Regions from separate parts of the Homo sapiens genome. Here regions 2 and 3 are each linked to region 1. Evidence: fine-mapped expression QTL. A gene starts in region 1. Each other region holds a variant in brackets. All regions are shown on one strand. Distances are from middle to middle. Region 1 holds the start of ZNF607 (zinc finger protein 607). Region 2 overlaps SPINT2 (serine peptidase inhibitor, Kunitz type 2). Region 3 overlaps LOC105372394 (a long non-coding RNA gene).

Region 1 (7,233 bases):
AAGGAGGTCCCTGGTAGCTCCCTCTCCTCTTAAAATGCAGAGATATATGAAAGCCCATGTCAAAAGACCTAGTTGCAACACATTGACTTACAGATCTAATGGGCTTTGTGATTCATGAAAGGGGTAGCCTCCATTGTACAAAATAGCGTAAGAGCTCCTACTGAGCAATGGAGAAACAGTGGATTTTGTAAGGTGGAAACAAATAAGAGAACTATAGAAAAAAAAATTGATTGGTGACTATCAGGCTACTTCAGTTTACTTTTTTCTGGAAGGTTAAGCGGAGGTCATTTCCTTATTATGCTGACTCAGGTAGACTGGAGTCTCCTGTTTTCAGGAAAAACTGATCTGTTTGGAACTCTACCTGCTCCCTTAAAGTTTCAGTTTTGTAATGTGGCTTTTAGCATGAGTGACTTCATTTTGGTTTAGTCTGGTCTGTTGGAGCCTAGTGCAGAAGCTCAGTCCAAAGTAATGGTGTCTCATCATACTGGTTTTATATCCATGGTTGGGTTAGATTCCTTTTTCTAACTAAAAGTAGGAGTCTGTCTATTTCATTAATTCTCTTCTGTAAAGACAAAACCACACACAAGTGCTCACACATGAAAACTGAAAACATATACACCCAAATTTGTAAAGTGATTCTCTCTGGGCAGGGAGGTTTGGGTTATTCTAAATTTCTTCTTTGAAACTATCTTAGGGAGTGAAATTTTTGTGACGAAACTGCCTTAATTCCATCATCATAAATATAACTTCAAGATATTTCAAAGTAGTAATAAACTATTTCTAAAAGTATCCTTATGGGGAGAGGGTACATGTGTCATTAAAAGAAATCTAAATATTAGGCCTAGAATGAAAAATCAGCGTGACTAAAACATGTAACTCTTTGTCTTCTTGAACAGCCTTTAGCTGTGTTTCTTCTACATAACTAGAAACAATTCACTATAAAGATTCTTTCCTTAGTGGACAGGGAAATGGCTTCTGCACATCTAATGGGAACAGGTACACAAAATAGGTCCAATAATTTGGGGCACACATTATATGCTCAGTAAATGTAGCCACAACCCTTTCATTCCTCTCTGAAAAACCAATTAAATAATCATTTTGGATACAATCCTTGCAAAAGTTTTTGCAAAATTCCCTTTGTTTAATTTTAATTTTAAATTTTATTTTTTTGAGACGGAGTCTCGCGCTGTCGCCCAGGCTGGCGTGCAGTGGCTCGATCTCGGCTCACTGCAAGGTCCGCCTCCCAGGTTCACACCATTCTCCTGCCTCAGTCTCCCGACTAGCTGGGACTACAGGCGCCCACCACCACGCCCGGCTAATTTTTTGTATTTTTAGTAGAGACGGGGTTTCACCATGTTAGCCAGGATGGTCTCAATCTCCTGACCTCATGATCTGCCCGCCTCGGCCTCCCAAAGTGCTGGGATTACAGGCGGAAGCCACTGTGCCAGGCCCAAAATTCCATTTTTAAAAAATGAGCTGCGGCTGGGCGTGGTGGCTCACGCCTGTAATCCCAACACTTTGGGAGGCCAAGGTGGGTGGATCACCTGAGGTTGGGAGTTCAAGACCAGCCTGACCCACATGGAGAAACCCCGTCTCTACTAAAAATACAAAAAAAAAAAAAAAATAGCCAGGCATGGTGGCCCATGCTTGTAATCTCAGCTACTCAGGTGGCTGAGGCAGGAGAATCGCTTGAACCCGGGAGGCGGAGGTTGCAGTGAGCAGAGATCGCACCATTGCACTCCAGCCTGGGCAACAAGAGCGGAACTCAGTCTCAAAAAAAAAAAAAAAAAAAAAAAAGAAAGAAAAAGAGTTGCATATATAGTTTGAGAACTGTGATCCACCACTGTAACTCTAAATAGTGTTAAACATTAGATCACAGCTATTTATCCTGTGACAGATTCTTTACAAACATAAATCTTATTATTTGTATAATATCCAATCCCTTGGACGCTGTATAATTTTCTTAACCATTCCCATAATCTCGTTCATTAGTTTTCTGCAAAACCATTCAAAGGTATAAAACTCTTTGATTCCAGATCTAAAACCTGAGTCTAAATAATTTGGATTATGGACATCCTAGAAAAATGCAAATTAACAAACATGTACAGGAATTCTTTATAGAATTTCAGGGGGTTTGTGATGTCCCTTATGCCCATAAGGGCATTGGTCTACAGACAGTACACCAATGACCGAGAATTCCTATTTTGGAAAACTTAAATTCTGGCTCACTTCCTTCACATCACGGCTAAGTTCATATTCTTGTTGCTTTTGATCTACAGAAATCCAAAACGGAATATCCAAAATTGCCTCATAATACTTAGCGCTTATGTTTCCCCCCTCCAAGGCTGCAGGCGCGTAATTTCATACACACGACCAGAAGGAAGTATGTTGGATGGAACCTGCAATCATCCTTCACTGCAGGTTCTTGGGGTCAGAATTCAAGGCCGTGTTTGTTAAACATGTAAATGAAACTCCAAGAACCGGGAGGTGGGGGCGGAGTAACAACCCTTTTCAGGAGGGAATCCTACACTCGAAACTGACAAACCCTGCCAGACCAAATTTTAGTCAGGCTACTACACCTTCAGCTAGGCCCATCTGTACACTTCACTGTAAAATCTGGCTATAGCAAAGAACTATTCTAAGTCAGTTTAGCAAGACCCTTTCGCCTCCGTATCTTCATCCTCCACCGTCCCCCAGGTCTCTCTCTCCAGAAATAATCCTGTTAGGTGCGTTTAGTCAGAATCTTCCTTAACCCAGACATTTCCTCTTAGTAATTTCTCATCCAGTGATCCCTAACCTTCTTGGCTATAAATTCCCACTTGTTCATGCTGAATTCGGAGTTGAGCCCAATGTCTGTTACCCACTGCAAAATCTCACAGCCGGGATCCCAATACCTACCACCATGGTCCTGAATAAAGGGTTCTTTGCATGCTTTAACAAGTGTCACTGAATACTTTTTTATTTAACAGAATCTATCATACCTTTCTTAAGGGCAATTACTCTTCTAAGCTTCTCATCCTATCTGTTTCTTCTCACTGGAAATCTTCATCTAAGACTCAGTATCTGATTTCCCATTGGGACCATTTCTCTGTTGTAGTCGTACTAGGCTGAGGAAGGCACAGGAAGCAGCAGGGAACCTGGAGCCAAGGGTCAATAGACCCCACAGAGCCCAGCGAAGCACGCTTTACAAAGGACACACACGGCATGTACAGGTCACACAAGGTCGACTACGCACCCCTCACAGTCCCGCAACTGCACCCACGTCACACAGGCAAGCCGGTCCTGTCGCCGCTGCGCGGTCTCTCACGCTCCCCGCCTGTCTCCTAGAGACGGGCCCCTCCTCCGCAGCTCCAGCACCCTAGGGCCTGAGGAGGCGGGAGACTCGCCCGGCCCGCCTGGGGGCCTCCGCGCTCTGAGCGCCTCCTGCAGCCCCACTCTCACCGCCACGCAGGGTACCACGCGGGCGGCGGGCTGGGGCTGCAGAGGCTCCCGCAGTGACCTGCGCCGCCTTCTTCAGGTGGAACCAAAAGGTCCCGGAACCGGAGCCAGGGGTCCAAGTTTTCTCCGTTGCCTTTGTAATATGTAGTCCAAGCCAGAACAGTCAGGACCGCAGGTACCGGTGAGAAATGGAGTCCAGAATCCTAAAAACCTACGAGAAATACGGCAGCGACCACTTGGACCGCGCCTCCCACCCACCGCTCGAGCCCCGGAGACTTCTGGGAGTGGCCGCCTTGCCTCGAGTGCGCATGCGCAGATCGGCCACTACTGGGCCCCTGGCCTGAGGCTTAGGGTGGAGTTAGTGCGTTCTTAGGGCCAGTAGGAGGCGAGTCTGAGTAGAAACTGATCCAGGTAGCCTCGGAAGGGATCACCTGCTGGATGGGTGTGAGCTCCTCAGGGTGGGGCGCCGAAACCCTCATGGCTCCTGAGGTAGAGCCGGCCTCCTTGGTAACACATGGGACTGGGACTTTTAATACCACCCGACAGGCCCAGCTTGTCTCGTCAAGCGCTAAGTAAATGGACTCACGTCCTATATGAGGGTTTGAAGTTCCATCACATTCTTCAATACATGACATTATGTTCTTCATCTTTGGACACGAATATATTTGACTAAAAATTTGACTAAAAAATCATCTGAAGAAATAACTGCTAAATAGTTTTATTATTTTTGTTCTGGAATAGGCTTCTTGAAGATAAAATAAGAAATTTAAAAAATTTTTTTGATCCTTCATGTAATACTTTGTAAATCTTCATAGTTATTTAGAAGCATCCAAAATTTCCAAATGGTAAAAAACGAATAAGAAAAATTTTTAGGTAAGTAAATTTGGGGGAAATATTTACAACAGCTAAAACGGACAAATATTTAATAGTCCGAATTTCCTGTTTCTTTGGCTTAATAAAATATTGATGAATACAGGCTGGGCACGGTGGCTCACGCCTTTAATCCCAGCATTTTCGGAGGCCAAGGCAGGAGGATCAGTTGAGGCCAGAAGTTCAAAACCAGCCTAAGAAACATAGTGAGACACCCCTCTCCTCCTCCCAAACTCTACCAAAAATGAAAGTTAGCCTGGTGTGGTGGCACACGCCTGTGGGCCCAGCTATTCCAAAGACAAAGGTAGGAGGATCAGTTGAGCCCGGAAGTTCAGGCTTCAGTGAGGTATGATGGTGTCACCGCACTCTGGCCTGAGCAACAGAGCAAGACCTTGTCTCAAAAAATAAATAAGTAAAATTAATTTAAAAATAAAAAATATTTGTCTATACCCTAAGAGGAAAAGGAACAAAACTAAAAAATCACCATTCAAAAATACAAATAGTCAAGGAAAAAAAACTATTAAAGTTACAATTTAAGAACTTATTGATCACTTTTTCTTCTCTTAATTAGTTCTTGGATTTGTTGCTCCTGAATCTCCTGAATAATCTCTCAGAAATACCACACATAGATCAATGGATTAAATTGACTCCACATATTATTTTCTTTTTCTTTTTTCTCTTTTTGAGACGGAGTTTTGCTCTAGTTGCCCAGGCTGGAGTGCAATGGCACGATCTTGGCTCACTGCAACCTCCACCTCCCAGGTTCAAGCGATTTTCCTGCCTCAGCCTCCTGAGTAGCTGGAATTACAGGCATGCATCACCATGCCCAGCTAATTTTGTATTTTTAGTAGAGACAGGGTTTTACCATGTTGGTCAGGCTGGTCTCGAACTCCCAACCTCAGATGATCTGCCCGCCTTGGCCTCCCAAAGTGCTGGGATTATAGGCATGAGCTACTGCGCCCGGCTCCACATACTATTTTCAACAAGGATACCAAGGCATTTTAAGGAAGGGAAGAGTAGTCTTTGTTGAAAAGACTGGAATTAGAGATGCACATAGAAAGGAATGAATTGAGTTCCCTGCCTCTCACCATATACAAAATCAACTCAAAATGGATCAAACACCTAGGTGTAAGACTTAAAACAGTAGAACATTTAGAAGGAAATGTAGGCATAAATCTTCTGGACTTTATAGTCAGCAATTGTTTCTTAACCGTGACATCAGAATCACAAGCAACAACATCAAAAAAGGAAATTGGACATAAATTGTAAAACATTGTGCTTCAAAACCCACCAAGAATGTGAGAAGCTACCCAAAGAGTGAGAAAAATTGTTTGTAAATTATGTATCCAATAAGGGATTTGTATCTAGAATATATAAAGAAGTCTTGCAACTCAATAATAAAAAGCCCAACAAAAATGGGCAAAGTAACTGAATAAGCATTTCTCAAAAAAAAAAAAAAAGTATACACATGGCTACTAAATACTTGAAAACATGTTCTATATTAATCATTAAGAATATGCAAATCAGCCAGGAGCAGTGGCTCATGCCTGTAATCTCAGCACTTTGGGAGGTCGAGGCAGGAGGATTGCTTGAGCCTAGGAGTTCGAAACCAGCCTGGGAAACAAAGAAAAAGACTATGTAAATCAAAACCCCAAAACCCCAATGAGATATACTACTTAGGATGACTAAAATCAAATAAATATACAATAACAAATTTTGGATAGGATTTGGATAAATAGAACCCTATATACATTGATGGTGTCACTGGAAAATGGTAGAACTACTGTATAAACAGTCTGGCAGTTCCTCAGAAGAATGTAGAGTTACCATACGATGTAGCAATTTTAGTCCTAGGTATATTCTCAAGACAAAACCATATGTTCTCACAAAGCTTGTACACAGATATTTATAGCAGCATGATTCATGATAGCCAAAACTGGAAAGAAAACCCAATTGTTCTTCATTTTATAAGTAGATAAGTAAAATGTGGCATATCTACACAATGGACTATTATTTGGTAATATAAGGAAATGAAGATCTGATACAAGCTACAACATAGATCAACCTTGAACACTATGCTAAGTGAATGAAGCTGGTACAAAAGACCACATATTTATGATTCCTTCTATGTGAAATTTCTTCTCATATAAAATTTCCAATGTGGGCTAATTTATAGAGACTGAAAGTAAATTGTTTCCTAAATTGAACGGTGGCAGAAGGAATTGGGATGGTGGCTAAAGGCTTTCATGCTGGCGTGATGAAAATGTTATAAAACTGTGTTGAAGGTTTCACAACTTTGTGACTACATTAAAAACTACTGGATTTTACACTTTAAATGAGTGAATTGGATGGAATGTGAATTATATACAAAGTTGTTACCAAAAGAAATAAAAAAGAAATACAGAGTTTTCAACAAGTAAAAACTGAGAGCATTTGTTGTTAGCAGATCTTCTTTATAAGAAATGTTAAAGAAAATTCTTGAGAAAGAATAGGACAGAATCAGAAATTTGTATCTAAACAAGAAATGAAGAGTCAGAATTAAAGTTAATGGAAGTAAAACCATTTTTTTCCTCATATTTAGTTTCTCTGAAAGATAGTAATAATGTTATTATTATTATTCTTAAAATTTTTTGAGATACAGTCTTGCTTTGTCACCCAGGCTGGAGTGCAGTGGCACGATCTCAGCTTACTGCAACCTCCGCCTCCCAGATTCAAGCAATTCTCCTGCCTCAGTCTCCCAAGTAGCTGGGATTACAGGCACGCGCCACCAGGCCCGGCTAATTTTGTATTTTTAGTAGAGACAGGGTTTCACCATGTTGATCAGGCTGGTCTTGAACTCCTGACTTCAAGTGATCCACCAACCTTGGCTTCCCAAAGTGTTGAGATTACAGGTGTGGGCCACTGCGCCCAGACTATCTTATTGTT
Region 2 (7,233 bases), 550 kb after region 1:
ACAGAGAGAGAGCATGCGCGCGCGCGTGTGTGTGTGTGTGTGTGTGTGTTACGGCTGGCTGTTGGGGAAATCCTTATATCAGGTAGCTGCAGATATGCAGGATTTTTTTCTTTTCCTTTTCCCCACCCAGGTGGTAAATCCTGGTATTTGGAGGGTCCTGAAATGTGTAATGTTGCTCAACACCAGGCCAGATCATATATTTCCTCAGCAGAATAGAAACTTGAAAGGTCCTTTAGGAGTGGCCAGTTAGGTGTAGTTCTTGCTGCCAATAACTTTGTGCCTGGCCCTGGGCATCAGAACTTGTGTTAATGGTTACTTGGCTTAAGGTCTTTTGTTTTTGTTTTTGTTTGTTTTTGTTTTTTTGGGTTTTTTTTTGAGACGGAGTCTCTCTCATCGCCCAGTCTGGAGTGCAGTAGCGCGATCTCAGCTCACTGCAATCTCCACCTCCCGGGTTCACATCATTCTCCTGCTTCAGCCTCCTGAGTAGCTGGGACTACAGGCGCCCGCCACCACGCCCGGCTAATTTTTTGTATTTTTAGTAGAGACAGGGTCTCACCACCGTGTTAGCCAGGATGGTTCAAGGTCCTTTGTTGATTCTTCTTGGGAATTTCCACTGGAGGCAAGCAGGGCAACACTTATTTGAGAACCTCTCCTGCACCTTTTTTTTTTTTTTTTTTTTTTTGAGACAGAGTCTTGCTGTGTCACTCAGACTGGAGTGCAGTGGCGCCATCTTGGCTCATTGCAGCCTCTGCCTCCTGGGTTCAAGTGATTCTCCTGCCTCATCCGCCTGAGTAGCTGGGGTTACAGGTGTGCACCACCACACCCAGCTAATTTTTGTATTTTTAGTTGAGATGGGATTTCTTTTCTTTTTTTTTTTTTTTTTTTGAGACGGAGTGTCTCGCTCTGTCGCCCAGGCCGGAGTGCAGTGGCGCGTTCTCGGCTCACTGCAAGCTCCGCCTCCTGGGTTCACACCATTCTCCTGCCTCAGCCTCCCGAGTACTGGGACTACAGGCACCTGCCGCCACGCCCGGCTAATTTTTTGTATTTTTAGTAGAGACGGGGTTTCACCGTGTTAGCCAGGATGGTCTTGATCTCCTGACCTTGTGATCTGCCCGCCTCGGCCTCCCAAAGTGCTGGGATTACAGGCGTGAGCCACCGCGCCCGGCCTGAGATGGGATTTCAACATGTGGGCCAGGCTGGTCTCGAACTCCCGACCTCAGGTGATCTGCCCACCTCAGCCTCTCAAAGTGCTGGGATTACAGGCTCGAGCCACGTGGCCCAGCCCTCTCCTGCACTTCCAAGGGATTTTCGAAATGCATGGACCTCTCAGGTTAATTATAGTGTCTGTAGAACCTTAACTGCTGTAAGCTTTCCAGCAGACTCCACAGACGTGTTATTAGTTGCCACCCTTTCTTTACTTTCCTCCTCACCCCCATGGATAGTCGTGACCCTGGTGGTCAGAGATAAGATGACAGAAGAGCTAAAGTAAAGCTGGTGTTGGCGATCAGCTGGGAATTCTCTAAAACAGCTTCTCACATTATTCTTATCCTCCATAGAAGGAGTGCTTGTCCTACTTGCAGGCAAGGCAGTTTGGTTCCAGGGTAGTTCGAAATCTTATTCACTGATATAGTCAGCAAATGTTTATTGAGCACCCACCAATTGCCAGGCACTGACTCACTCAAATTAGAGCACTGAACAAAATAGACCCCCTCCCCCATCCGTGGCAGACGTGTCATAATGAGAGGAAGACAGTACAATAAATGAACAGATGAATGTATGTCTGGTGATGAGTGTCAGGGTTGGTGTGCTTAGCACTGAAAATGGGGGCTTCTGAGGTTCAAATGGTTGCAGTTCCTAAAGAAGGTTGAGGGCCTTGCCTTCAGGTCACCGCGGGAGACTGGCCCCTTTCCACTGGAAACATTGCTTTGCCCAGTCAGTATTTGAGAGCTCAGCCTGCAATGGAGAAATCACACTTCTCCTCTTTCACCCTGCTCCCCACCCTGTTTCTCATTTTACCCATCCCCAGCCATTTGCAGAATGCATGCAGAGCTTCTGTTTGCCATGTCTGGAGGCTACAGGGGAGGCTGAATAAGGGGTGATAAGCCTGTGGCTCATGTGAGGCGGGAGAGAGCCCAGCAGGAGTCACACTGAAATGACTCCATTAGCCCCAGGAGGCCTTGGCCCACCGGCCATGACTAATGTGGACATTAGAGTGTGGATTCCGATGTCCTGCAAGATCCTCCTCACAAGTGTCATTTCATGGTTTTTTTCTGGCAACATCTTTTTGAAAACTCCCTGTAAAGAAGTGCTGATGTTGATGCTGAGGCCCAGGAACTTTGGAGTTTATTTACCTTTTTTTGTTGTTTTATTTTCCTTGGCAGGTGAAGTAGGAGCTAGAGTTTACTTATTTTGAAGTTTATTTGAAATATGCTTTTTATGATTAGAAGCCATTTTAGAAATGAGGGCGAGGCCGGGCGCGGTGGCTCATGCCTGTAACCCCAGCACTTTGGGAGGCCGAGGCAGGCGGGTCACGAGATCAGGAGATCGAGACCATCCTGGCTAACACGGTGAAAACCCGTTTCTACTAAAAATACAAAAAAATTAGCCTCGCGTGGTGGCGGGCGCCTATAGTCCCAGCTATCTGGGAGGCTAAGGCAGGAGAATGGCGTGAACCCAGGAAGTGGAGCTTGCAGTGAGCTGAGATCATGCCACTGCACTCCAGCCTGGGCAACAGAGCAAGACTCTCTCAAAAAAAAAAAAAATGTTATGCTAAGTGAGAGGAGCCACTTACAAGAGACCACCACATGTTTGGCCGGGTACAGTGGCTCATGCCTGTAATCCCAGCACTTTGGGAGGCCGAGGTGGGTGGATCACGAGATCAGGAGTTCAAGACCAGCCTGGCCAAGATGTTGAAACCCCATCTCTACTAAAAATACAAAAAAAAATTAGCCGGGTGCAGTGGCAGGCGCCTGGAGGCTGAGGCAGGAGAATCGCTTGAACTCGGAGGGTGGAGGTTGCAGTGAGCCGAGATCACGCCACTGCAGTCCAGCCTGGGAGACAGAGTGAGACTCCATCTCAGAAAAAAAAGAGGGCAAGAATTCACATGTTGTTTTACTCACACGTGTTGGAGATGGAGCTCAGGGTGATTCCTGACTGGGCCCAGGGTCCATGGCCTCAGAAGTCCCTTAATCTGAAGTCCTTCACTTTTATGTGATACTGCTGGGCACAATGGCTCACGCTTGTAATCCCAGCACTTTGGGGGGCTGAGGCAGGTGGATTGCTTGACTGAGGAGTTTCAACATGGTGAAACAAAAAATACAAAAAACTAGTCAGCCTGTAGTCCCAGCTATGTGGGAGGCTGAGGTGGGAGAATTGCTTGAGCCCAGGAAGTGGAGGTTGCAGTGAGCCGAGATCGCACCATTGCACTCCAGCCTGGGCGACAGAGCGAGACCCCATCTCAAAACAATTTTATATGTGATAGTTTGTCCATGTGTATGCCAGGGTCTGTCATTTAGAGTGTATGGCATGTTCTTAAAGGGGTGGGGGAACAAAAAGATACTATAATAGTTTGTGACCTTTTGAAGGGCCGCTCTACATGAATAGATATATAGTATGTCTGTGGTGTTAAAATTTTGTGGGGCGATTAGGAAAAACATTTCCAAAAAGTCTTAGGGGGAAGGTAGTAATGAAAAAAGGTTGAGAAACACCATTCCAGAGAGAGGGTCCAAGAGCTTTCCTCAGTTCTGAAAATGGTCCATGATTTGCACAAGGTAAAGAATGGCTGAATGCGAATTAACAGCAGACAGTTTCTTAGAAGATTTGAAACTATTGTTTCCTTCCCAGCTATTCAGATGGACTGCTCGGGTTCTTGTTATGGATTGAGGCGAGGGTAGACTTAATAGTCTTGTTTCAGAGTGGAATATGGAGTGATGGTAGGCATGAGTAGTGATGAGTTGCATTGTGCTGATAGGTTATGAAATGTAAATTTTTTATTTTTTGATATGGAGTCTCTGTCGCCCAGACTCTGGAGTGCAGTGGTGCGATCTCGGCTCACTGCAACCTCCACCTTCTGGGTTCAAGCGATTCTCCTGCCTCAGCCTCCTGAGTAACTGGGATTACAAGCATGCACCACCACGCCCGGCTCATTTTTTTGTATTTTTAGTAGAGACGGGGTTTCACCATGTTGGCCAGGCTGGTGTTGAACTCCTGACCTCAGGTGATCCACCTGCCTCAGCCTCCCAGAGTGCTGGGGTTACAGGCGTGAGCCACCGTGCCCGGCCTGAAATGTAAACTTTTATATCTAAATATTTTATAT[A/G]GAAAATACCAAGATTTTATATCTGAAACACCAAGATTTTATGAGCCTCATAACTTAAGTAGGATTTGTAATTGTAAATGTTCTTTCCTCATAAATACCTGAGGTTTTTTTTTGAAAGGTTCTGAATTGTCTCAATAATGAAAACTTCCAGACACCCAAGCCTAGAGGAGATGGGTAGTTGGTAGCTTTCTGTACTGGAAACAGAAACACTCAAATATATAGAACCTAGCCAGCTAACCAAAGTAGGTAGATTTATAGATCATCTTAAAATAAGGCTGATTACACAGTAAATGTCACCTTTGGAATCTGGCTTGGTAGAATTGAAATAGGCTTCAGTACCTCCTGTCATTCAGTACCTGTTTTCTTGAACTCCTGACTTCAGGTGATCTGCCTCGGCCTCCCAGAGTGCTGGGCTTACAGGCATGAGCCACTGTGCCCGGCCTCAGTACCTCTTTTTAAGATGCTCTCATTCATTCCCTGGTGAAAAGATGCTTGAAGTGCAAGTGCAAGTAGGTGTGGAAAGCATGGAGGGTTTGTGTTGCTTCATTTGTTTTGGTATTTGTTTTTTCCACCAGTCCCTCCCTCTGGCTTTCTGCCTCCCAGCCCAGCATATCCTGATCTTGTAGCCATGCAGGACTTTGACCCGTGTGGTGGTTTGCCATTGTCTTCCTCCAGGTGAAGATAAGACATCATTGGTTTGGCTTGAGGTTGTACTTTTGGCCTTCCCTGTATATCCTCTTCCTCCTTATCCTCTCCGTCAGCATGCTTGGTTGGACTCTGTAGTGAAATGTGTCATTCTCTTTATTCTGACTGTCCCTATATTAGTCCTGTCTTCATAAAAAATACAATCGTAAAGATACAATATCTACTATTTGTTAAAAGTTTTGTGCTAGGCCAGGTGCGGTGGCTCACGCCTGTAATCCCAGCACTTCAGGAGGCCGAGGCGGGTGGATCATTTGAGCCCAGGACTTCAATACTAGTCTGGGCAACATGGTGAAACCTCGTTTCTACAAAAAATGCAAAAATTAACCGGGTATGGTGGCACACGCCTATAGTCCCAGCTACTTGGAGGCTGAGGTGGGTGGGTCACTGAGCACAGGTCAAGGCTACTGTGAGCCAAGATTGTACCACTGTACTCCAGCCTGGGTGACAGGGCAAGTCCCTGTCTCAAAAAAAAAAAGAAAGCTGTGTGCTAAATACTATTTTAAGCAATTATAATGGATTAAAAACTCCTTTAATCTTCACAACAATGTTTTTTCTTTCTTTTTTTTTGAGATGGAGTTCTTTGAAACTCTTGGATTAAATGACTCTTCAGAGCTTTCTTTGCTTTTTGATACTAAGGAGTGGCATGTCTGGGGATTTTTATAGCAAATAACTTCTCCTTGGCTACTATCCTTAGAATTCCAAGTGTTTTTAATGAAAAGAGGAGACTTGTTTTTAGTGATGTTAGTTGTTTTTAGGAAAGGTGTTCTGCAGTGTTTTTCGCTAAGGTGGCTCACGCCTGTAATCCCAGCACTTTGGGAGGCCGAGGTAGGCAGATCACTTGAGGTTAGGAGTTTGAGGCCAGCCTGGCCAGCACAGCAAAACCCTATCTACTGAAAATACACAAAGTAGCCAGGTGTGGTAGTACACTCCTGGAGTCCTAGCTACTCAGGAGGCTGAGGCAGGAGATGACTTGAACCCGGGAGGCAGAGGTTGCAGTGAGCCTAGATCGCACTATTGCATTCCAGCCTGGACGACAGAGTGAGACTGTCTTAAAAAAAAAAAAAAACATAAAATGGAGAGGTAGACCAGCTTACGGGAGGTGTTGCACTTCCCTCTGCCACTGGAGAGACTCTGGATCTGCAGCCAGGGAGCTTGTGAAGGCTTCTTGTCCACGGAAATGAGGGCGGCAGTTGTGACTTTCTGGATGGTGGCCCAGAGGAAGCAACACTGGCAGAGCCTCTTCTGTGAAGCAGCTCTGCGAGCAATTTTGTGACATTGAAAGAGCAAAGGATAAAACGTTGAAAGCTGATCCAGATCTAGAAAAGTGTTTGGCAATTGCTGGAAAAGGTGTAGAAATGATGCTTGCTCTGTATCGTAAGTTATATGGTGAGAAGACCACAAGCACGGTTCAAACTCCCCTTAGAAATTCTTTTGCACAGAAATTAACACTTTAATCCTAAATGTTTCCAATGTTTTAACTTACAGTATGCTAAATAAACATTCTTTCTGTTTGTTTGTTTTGTTTTGTTTTGTTACTCTGTGCATTTATAGCCAATAGAGTTTTTCTTTCCTTATTTTTTTGACACAGGGTCTTGCTCTGTCGCCCAGGCTAGAGTGCAGTGGTGCGATCTCAGCTCACTGCAACCTCCGCCTCCTGAGTTCAAGTGATTGTCCCGCCTCAGCCTCCCGAGTAGCTGGGACTACAGGCGCGCGCCACTGTGCCGGGCTAAGTTTTATATTTTTAGTAGAGATGGGGTTTCGCCATGATAGCCAGGGTGGTCTTGAAATCCTGACCACAGGTGTGAGCCACTGTATCTGGCCAAAAAAATTTTTTTATTTTTTGTAGAGACAGGGTCTCACTATGTTGCCCAGGCTGGTCTTGAACTCGTGACCTCAAATGATCCTCCTGCCTCGGCCTCCCAAAGTGCTGGGATTATAGGTATGAGCCACCATGCCCAGCTTGACAAAAAAATTTTTTTTTTTTTTTGAGAGATGAAGTTTCACTCTTGTTGCCCAGGCTGGAGTGCAATGGATCAGCTCACTGCAACCTGTGCCTCCTGGGTTCAAACGATTCTCCTGCCTCAGCCTCCAGAATAGCTGGGATTACAGGCATGCACCACCACGCCCGGCTAATTTTGTATTTTTAGTACAGACGGGGTTTCTCCATATTGGTCAGGCTGGTCTCGAACTCCTGACCTCAAGTGATCCACCTG
Region 3 (7,233 bases), 72 kb after region 1:
CAATTTGGGAGGCCGAGGCAGGCAGATCACCTGAGGTCGGGAGTTAGAGACCAGCCTGACCAACATGGAGCAACCTGGTCTCTGCTAAAAATACAAAATTTTTGGCCGGGCGCGGTGGCTCACGCCTGTGATCCCAGCACTTTGGGAGGCCGAGGCGGGCGGATCACGAGGTGAGGAGATCAAGACCATCCTGGTTAACACAGTGAAACCCCGTCTCTACTAAAAATACAAAAAATTAGCTGGGCATGATGGCGGGCGCCTGTAGTTCCAGCTACTCGGGAGGCTGAGGCAAGAGAATGGCCTGAACCTGGGAGGCGGAGCTTGCAGTTAGCGGAGATTGCGCCACTGCACTCCAGCCTGGGCTACAGAGCGAGACTCGGTCTCAAAAAAAAAAAAAAAAAAAAAAAAAAAATTATCCAGGCGTGGTGGCGCATGCCTGTAATCCCAGCTACTTGGGAGGCAGAGGCAGGAGAATAGCTTGAACCCCGGAGGCAGAGGTTGCGGTAAACTGAGATTGCGCCATTGCACTCCAGCCTGGGAAGCAAGAGCGCAACTCTGTCTCAAAAAAAAAAAAAAAAAAAAAAAAGCCGGGCACGGTGGCGCATGCCTGTAGTCCCAGCTACTCGGGAGGCTGAGGCAGGAGAATCCCTTGAGCCCAGGAGGCGGAGGTTGCATGAGCTGAGATCGCACCACTGCACTTCAGCCTGGGAAGTAAAAAGGTTTTTTTCGTTTTGTTTTGTTTAAACTGTTTTTTTTTTTTACCATTCAGATATATGGAATGTTTATAGATATCTACCAAGATAAATAATTACCATATCAAGGTTCTAAATTTTAAAAAATATTTTTTCCCTTTGTTACGTTTAGGAAGCCTATTCCAGGCCGGGGGCTGTGGCTCACGCCTACAATACCTGCATTTTGGGAGGCTGAGGCCGGGGGATGATGAGGTCAAGAGATCAAGACTATCGTGGTCAACATGGTGAAACCCCGTCTCTACTAAAAATACAAAAATTAGCTGGGCGTGGTGGCGCGCGCCTGTAGTCCCAGCTACTCGGGAGGCTGAGGCTGGAGAATGGCTTGAACCAGGGAGTCGCAGGTTGCAGTGAGCCGAGATCACGCCACTGCACCCTAGCCTGGCGACAGAGGGAGACTCCGTGTCAAAAAAAAAAAAAAAAAAAAAAAAGAAGAAGAAGAAGAAGAAGATGGCCGGGTGCGGTGGCTCACGCCTGTAATCCTAGCACTTTGGGAGGCCGAGGTGGGCGGATCATGAGGTCAGGAGATCGAGACCATCCTGCCTAACATGATGAAACCCTGTCTCTACTAAAAATACCAGAAAAAAAAAAAAAATTAGCCAGGCGTGGTGGCGGGCGCCTGTAATCCCAGCTACTCGGGAGGCTGAGGCAGAAGAATGGCGTGAACCCGGGAGGCAGAACCCGGGAGGCAGAGGTTGCAGTGAGCTGAGATCGCGCCACTGCACTCCAGCCTGGGCAACAAAGCGAGACTCCATAAAAAAAAAAAAAATCCTATTCCAGGCCAGCCGGGCACGGTGGCTCACGCCTGTAATCCCAGCACTTTCGGAGGCCGAGGTGGGCGGATCACCTGAGGTCAGGAGTTCGAGACCAGCCTGGCCAACATGGTGAAACCCCATCTCTACTAAAAATACAAAAATTAGCCAGGTGTGGTGGCGGATGCCTGTAATCCCGGCTACTTGGAAGGCTGAAGCACGAGAATCACTTGAACTCGGGAGGCAGAGGTTGCAGTGAGCCGAGATCGCGCCATTGCACTCCAGCCTGTGGAACAGAGTGAGACTCCGTCCCTAAAACAAACAAACAAGCAAACAAGCCTATTCCAAAACAAAAATAATGAAAGTATTTATTTCTTTGGATGTTTTTAAATAAAATTTTTAATCATATGTATTCGTGTCCAAAGGTGAAGAACATAATGTATTGAAGAATGTGGTGGGACTTAAGTCACTCCTATAGGACCTGAGTCCATTTACCTAACCCTTTTCTTTTACCCGAGTCAGGTTCCACCCAGACTCGCCTCCTACTGGCGCTGAGAACGCAGCGACTCCACCCTTAGCCTCAGGTCGGGGGCCCCAGCATTTGTCTGATCTGCGCTTGCGTACTCCTAGGCCAGGTGGCCACTCCCAGAGGTGTCCCAGGCTCGCGCGGTGGGCGGGGCGCGCGGTCCTCGTGGTCACATCCGTATTTCCTGTAGGTTTTTAGGACTCTGGACTCCACTTCTCAGGGTTGCCTGCGGTCCTGACTGTTCCGTCTTGGACTACATATTCCACGGGCGACGGAGAAATCTTGTACCTCTGGCTCCGTCTCCTGGACCTCTGCGCTGCCCGTGACCTGGTCCCACCTGAGGAAGAAGGCGGCGCGGGTCGCTGCCGGAGCTTCTGCAGCCCCAGCCCGCAGCCCGCGCGGGACCCTGGGTGGCGGTGAGAGTGGAGCTGCAGGAGGCACTCAGAGCGCGGAGGCCTCGGGCGCGGGCCGGACTTGTCTCCCACCTACTCAGGCCTTGGGGTGCTGGAGCTGCGAAGGAAGGGGCTCATCTCTAGGGAGACAGGTGGAGAACGTCTCCTTTGTGACGTGGAGACTGAGAAGGGTGCGTGAATGTGTTGTGTGACCGGGACATAGCGTGAGTGTCCTTTGAAAGCGTGCTTTGCTATAACTCTGTGGTGTCACTGACCCGTGGGTCAGGGTCTCAGTTTCCCTGTCTCCTCTCAGCCTCGTATGACTGCCACAGAGAAATGATCTAAGCGCAAAATCAGATACTGAGCCTTAGATGAAGTTTTCCAGTGAGAAGAAACGGATAGGATGGGAAGCTTAGAGCAGGAATTCCCTTAAGACGGTGTGATAGACTCTTTTAAAGAAAAAATATTCAGTCTTTAACACTCGTTAAAGCATGCAAAGGAAGACTTTATTCAGGATCATCGTGATAGGTATTGGAAGCACAGCAGTGAGATTTTGCAATGGGTACAAGAGATTGGGTTCAACTCCAAATTCAGCATGAACGAGTAGGAATTTATAGTCAAGGAGCAGGTTAGGGATCACTGGATGACAAAATACTAAGAGGAAATGTCTGGGATAAGTAGGATTCTGGCTAAACGCACCTGTTGGGATTCTTTCTGAAGAGAGAGACCTGGATGATAAGACATCATCGCCTGGGGGATAGTGGAGGATGAAGATGGGGGGCAGAGGGTTCTTGCTAAACTGACTTAAAAGGGGCCTTTGTTATTGTTGGATTTTATAATGAAGTGTACAGATGGGCCCAGGGGAAGGTGTAAGAGCCTGAGTAAAGTTTGGTCACGCAGGGTTTGTGTAGGATTCCTTCCTGGAAGGGTTGTACACTCCGCCCCCATCTCCCGGTTCTTGGAGTTTCATTTACGTGTTTAAGAATCACGTGGATGGTGAACCCTGATTCTGAAGTCGGTGTCTGCTGTGTTCATGGCAGGATTCGGTTAGGAGGAACAGCACAGCATGCTGGGCTCTGGATTTAAAGCTGAGCACTTAAGAGTGAATTTGAGATTAGTCATAAATCGCCTTGAACTATTGGAGGAAAAAAAAAAAAAACAGAACTGGCCCAGAAAGCAAGGAAGGAGATTGCTGACTATCTGGCTGCTGGGAAAGATGAACGAGCTCGGATCCGTGTGGAGCACATTATCCGGGAAGACTACTTCGTGGAGGCCATGGAGATCCTGGAGCTGTACTGTGATCTGCTGCTGGCTCGGTTTGGCCTTATCCAGTCTATGAAGGAACTAGATTCTGGTCTGGCTGAATCTGTGTCTACATTGA[T/C]CTGGGCTGCTCCTCGACTCCAGTCAGAAGTGGCTGAGTTGAAAATAGTTGCTGATCAGCTCTGTGCCAAGTATAGCAAGTAATATGGCAAGCTATGTAGGACCAACCAGATTGGAACTGTGAATGACAGGCTAATGCACAATCTGAGTGTGGAAGCCCCATCCAAAATCCTGGTGGAGAGATACCTGATTGAAATTGCGAAGAATTACAATGTACCCTATGAACCTGACTCTGTGGTCATGGCAGAAGCTCCTTCTGGGGTAGAGACAGATCTTATTGATGTTGGATTCACAGATGATGTGAAGAAAGGAGGCCCTGGAAGAGGAGGGGGTGGTGGGTTCACAGCACCAGTTGGTGGACCTGATGGAATGGTGCCAATGCCCATGCCTATGCCCATGCTATCTGCAAATACTCCTTTCTCATATCCACTGCCAAAGGGACCATCAGATTTCAATGGACTGCCAATGGGGACTTACCAGGCCTTTCCCAATATTTATCCATCTCAGATACCAGCAACTCCCCCATCATATGAATCTGTAGATGACATTAATGCTGATAAGAATATCTCTTCTGCACAGATTGTTGGTCCTGGACCCAAGCCAGAAGCCTCTGCAAAGCTTCCTTCCTGACCTGCGGATAACTATGACAACTTTGTCCTACCAGAGTTGCCATCTGTGCCAGACACACTACCAACTGCATTTGCTGGTGCCAGCACCTCAGCATCTGAAGACATTGACTTTGATGATCTTTCCCAGAGGTTTGAAGAGCTGAAAAAGAAAATATAGGTCTCTTAAACCAGGCAACTTTCATATTCTGGGAGTTGAGACTGAGCAATTTCTCCTTGTAACAAAGAATCTCCATGAAATTCCTTTTCATCTGTTAACCGTCACTGAGCACAACACTCCTCCTCTGGGCTCTCTGCCTGCTCCTCCAGATTCTGCTGCTTTCCAGTTCTCTGTTGATCCTGAGACTAACAACCGGAGACTGAGGCTGGAGCAACTGGCTCCTGGCAGCTGTGCTTGTCCCTTTTCTGTCAGAGTGATCCCAGGTTTCCTCCTGGCCCGTCCCATGGTCCCTCCACAGGAGCATAAGAGGATGGGAAAGCACTATGGGGAGACCACCAAAGATGGCTGGACAGTGGGAGAGAGCACGTCGTGAAGCATCCCAGCCTCGTGTTGAGGTTCCAGACTTAGAAACAAACCCCTCTGTACAGGGGGATTGTGGTGAGTGAGAATCAAGGCCACGGTGTGTGTTTTCGCACTCGAATGCAAGTGGGAGAGAGAAAATGACTCAGGACGCCATTGTAACGGTTCCTGGAAGCTGGGCCCTCTCATTGGCATATACACTACTCCTCGCCGCAGGGCACTGTCCCACCGGGATCCAGTTGCAAAGTTTGTCTCGACAGTTTAAGGCCTCGCTTAGTTGTACTGGATTCTCAGGGAGTCCTCTGTGGCCTTTTGCTCTGAGTGCTGTTTCCCTTGTACCAGAGGGCAGCACCATGGAAATTCTGTTTTTCCTGTAGCATATTGTGTTGGATTGCCTTACTGGCAGAGAAAGGACAAATTGCCATTGAAGTCTAGGGTGGGCTTCCAGCTGCCTTAATAGAAGTACTCAAGTCTTTTGGGTAGTGAGCTGGAAAGCCTACAGGAAAAAAGGGGTACCTGTTTTCATTTGAAAACTTTGATTCATGGAAACTTTAAAACTAATCTCAGATAAATTTTTGGTGCAAATGTGGCTGTAGTTGTCCACTGCTTTCCTGGATGGATGGGACTCTTATGTCATAACTTCTATACTCCTTTGGCCCATAGCTAAGGTCATCCTTCCCCACAGGGGTGGCTTTGGGATTGGATTATACAGCTTTTGCTTCTGTGTAGTATACCTGTACATACCTGTTTCAGGAAGCCTTTCTTTAATGTTTTCAGTTGGTTTGTATTCTGTAGCTCAGTAGCTGCTAATAAAGTTAAAGATCCTGGAAAAAAAAAAAAAGAATCACGGCCTTCTTGAATTCTGACTCTAAGAACCTGCAGTGAAGGATGACTAGAGATTTCACCTACCATACTTCCTTCTGGTTATGTGTATGAAATTATGCACCTGTAGCCTTGGAGGGGGAAACAGAAACACTATTTCGAGGAGTTTTTGGATCGTTCCGTTTTGGATTTCTGTAGATCAAAAGCAATAGGAATATGAACTCAGTTGTGATGTGTTCGTGCAAATGAAGGAAGTGAGCCGGAAATTTAAGTGCCCCAAAATAGGAATTCTTAGTCATTGGGTCCATTGTCTGTTTTTACGGGCATACAGGGCACCACAATCCCCCTGAAACTTTATATACATGTTTGTTAATTTGCATTTTTCCAGGGTTCCATCTTCCAAATTATTTAGACTTGAGCTTTAGACCTGGAATCAGAGTGTTATACCTTTGAATGGTTTTGCAGAAAACTAATGATCAAGATTATGAGAATGGTTAAGAAAATCATACAACATCCATGGGATTGGACATTATACTGATAATAAAATTTATGTTTATAAAGAATTTGTTATTAGCTGCATACCAGATATCAGGGAAACAAAAAATAATAAGAATTTGTCATTAACGGAAAAATGACTGTGATCTAACCTTAAACAGTATTCACAGTTGTAGATCACAGTTCTCAAAAACTGTATATGCATCCCATTTTTTAAAAATGGAAGTTTCCAAAACCTTTTGCAAGGATTGTATCTAATATGACCATTCAATTGGTTTTTCAGAGAAGAATAGAAGGGGAGAGGCCACATTTATTGAACATCTAATGTGTACCCAAATCATGTGGTCTGTTTTCTGTATCTTTTCTCATTTAATGCGCAAAGACCATTTCCCTGTTCATTAAGGGAAGAATCTTAATAGTGAAATGTTTCTAATTATGTAGAAGTGGCACAGCTAAAGGCTATTCAAGAGGACACATGTTACATGACACGTTGATACTTTTTAATTCTAGTCCTAGTACTTAGGTTTCTTTTCATGACAAAAATGTACCCTCTTCTAAAAAGTTTAATGCTTTGGAATGTATTGATGTTCTATTTGTAATGATGGAATTAAGGCAGGCTCATTGCAAAAATTTCATTACCTAAGGAAGTTATGAAGAAGAAAGAATAACCCCAAATCCCCCCTGCCCAGAGAAAATCACTTTACATATTTTGGTGTATGTGTTTCTAATTTTCATGTATGAACATTTGTGTGTAGTTTTGTCATTGCAGAAGAGAATTAATAGAGACACAAAGACTCCAACTGTTAGTTCGAAAATGGAATCTACCTCAATTGTTGCTGTTAAACCAAAATTATGGTATGGTATTGCTTTGGACTGAGCTTCTGCACTAGGCTCCAACAGACCACACCAAACCAAAATGAAGTCACTCATGCTAAATGCCACATTATCAAACTGAAACTTTAAGGGAGCAG

The links. PIP is the estimated chance that this variant, and not a neighbour inherited with it, causes the effect. A credible set is the group of variants that fine-mapping cannot tell apart.
Region 2: its variant is the best candidate, but not a certain one, in a credible set for the expression of ZNF607 in spinal cord (GTEx, PIP 0.85).
Region 3: its variant is the best candidate, but not a certain one, in a credible set for the expression of ZNF607 in fibroblasts (GTEx, PIP 0.71).

Annotation. Positions count from the first base shown.
Region 1 is chr19:37,716,034-37,723,266 of GRCh38, forward strand. It overlaps ZNF607 (zinc finger protein 607), which reads right to left and starts at 3,728. Exons shown (of 5, transcript NM_032689.5): 1 at 3,236-3,728. RefSeq lists silencers at 3,230-3,319, 3,380-3,489.
Region 2 is chr19:38,268,742-38,275,974 of GRCh38, forward strand. The region is part of intron 1 of SPINT2 (serine peptidase inhibitor, Kunitz type 2); the gene reads left to right. Among named protein-coding and RNA genes, the nearest start is that of SPINT2, 7.8 kb to the left of the region's middle. The variant A/G (reference allele first, on the strand shown) is at 4,316.
Region 3 is chr19:37,788,287-37,795,519 of GRCh38, forward strand. It overlaps LOC105372394 (a long non-coding RNA gene), which reads right to left. Exons shown (of 4, transcript NR_187848.1): 3 at 5,690-5,769; 4 at 2,904-5,441. It also overlaps the pseudogene LOC728533. Among named protein-coding and RNA genes, the nearest start is that of ZNF573, 12 kb to the left of the region's middle. The variant T/C (reference allele first, on the strand shown) is at 3,801.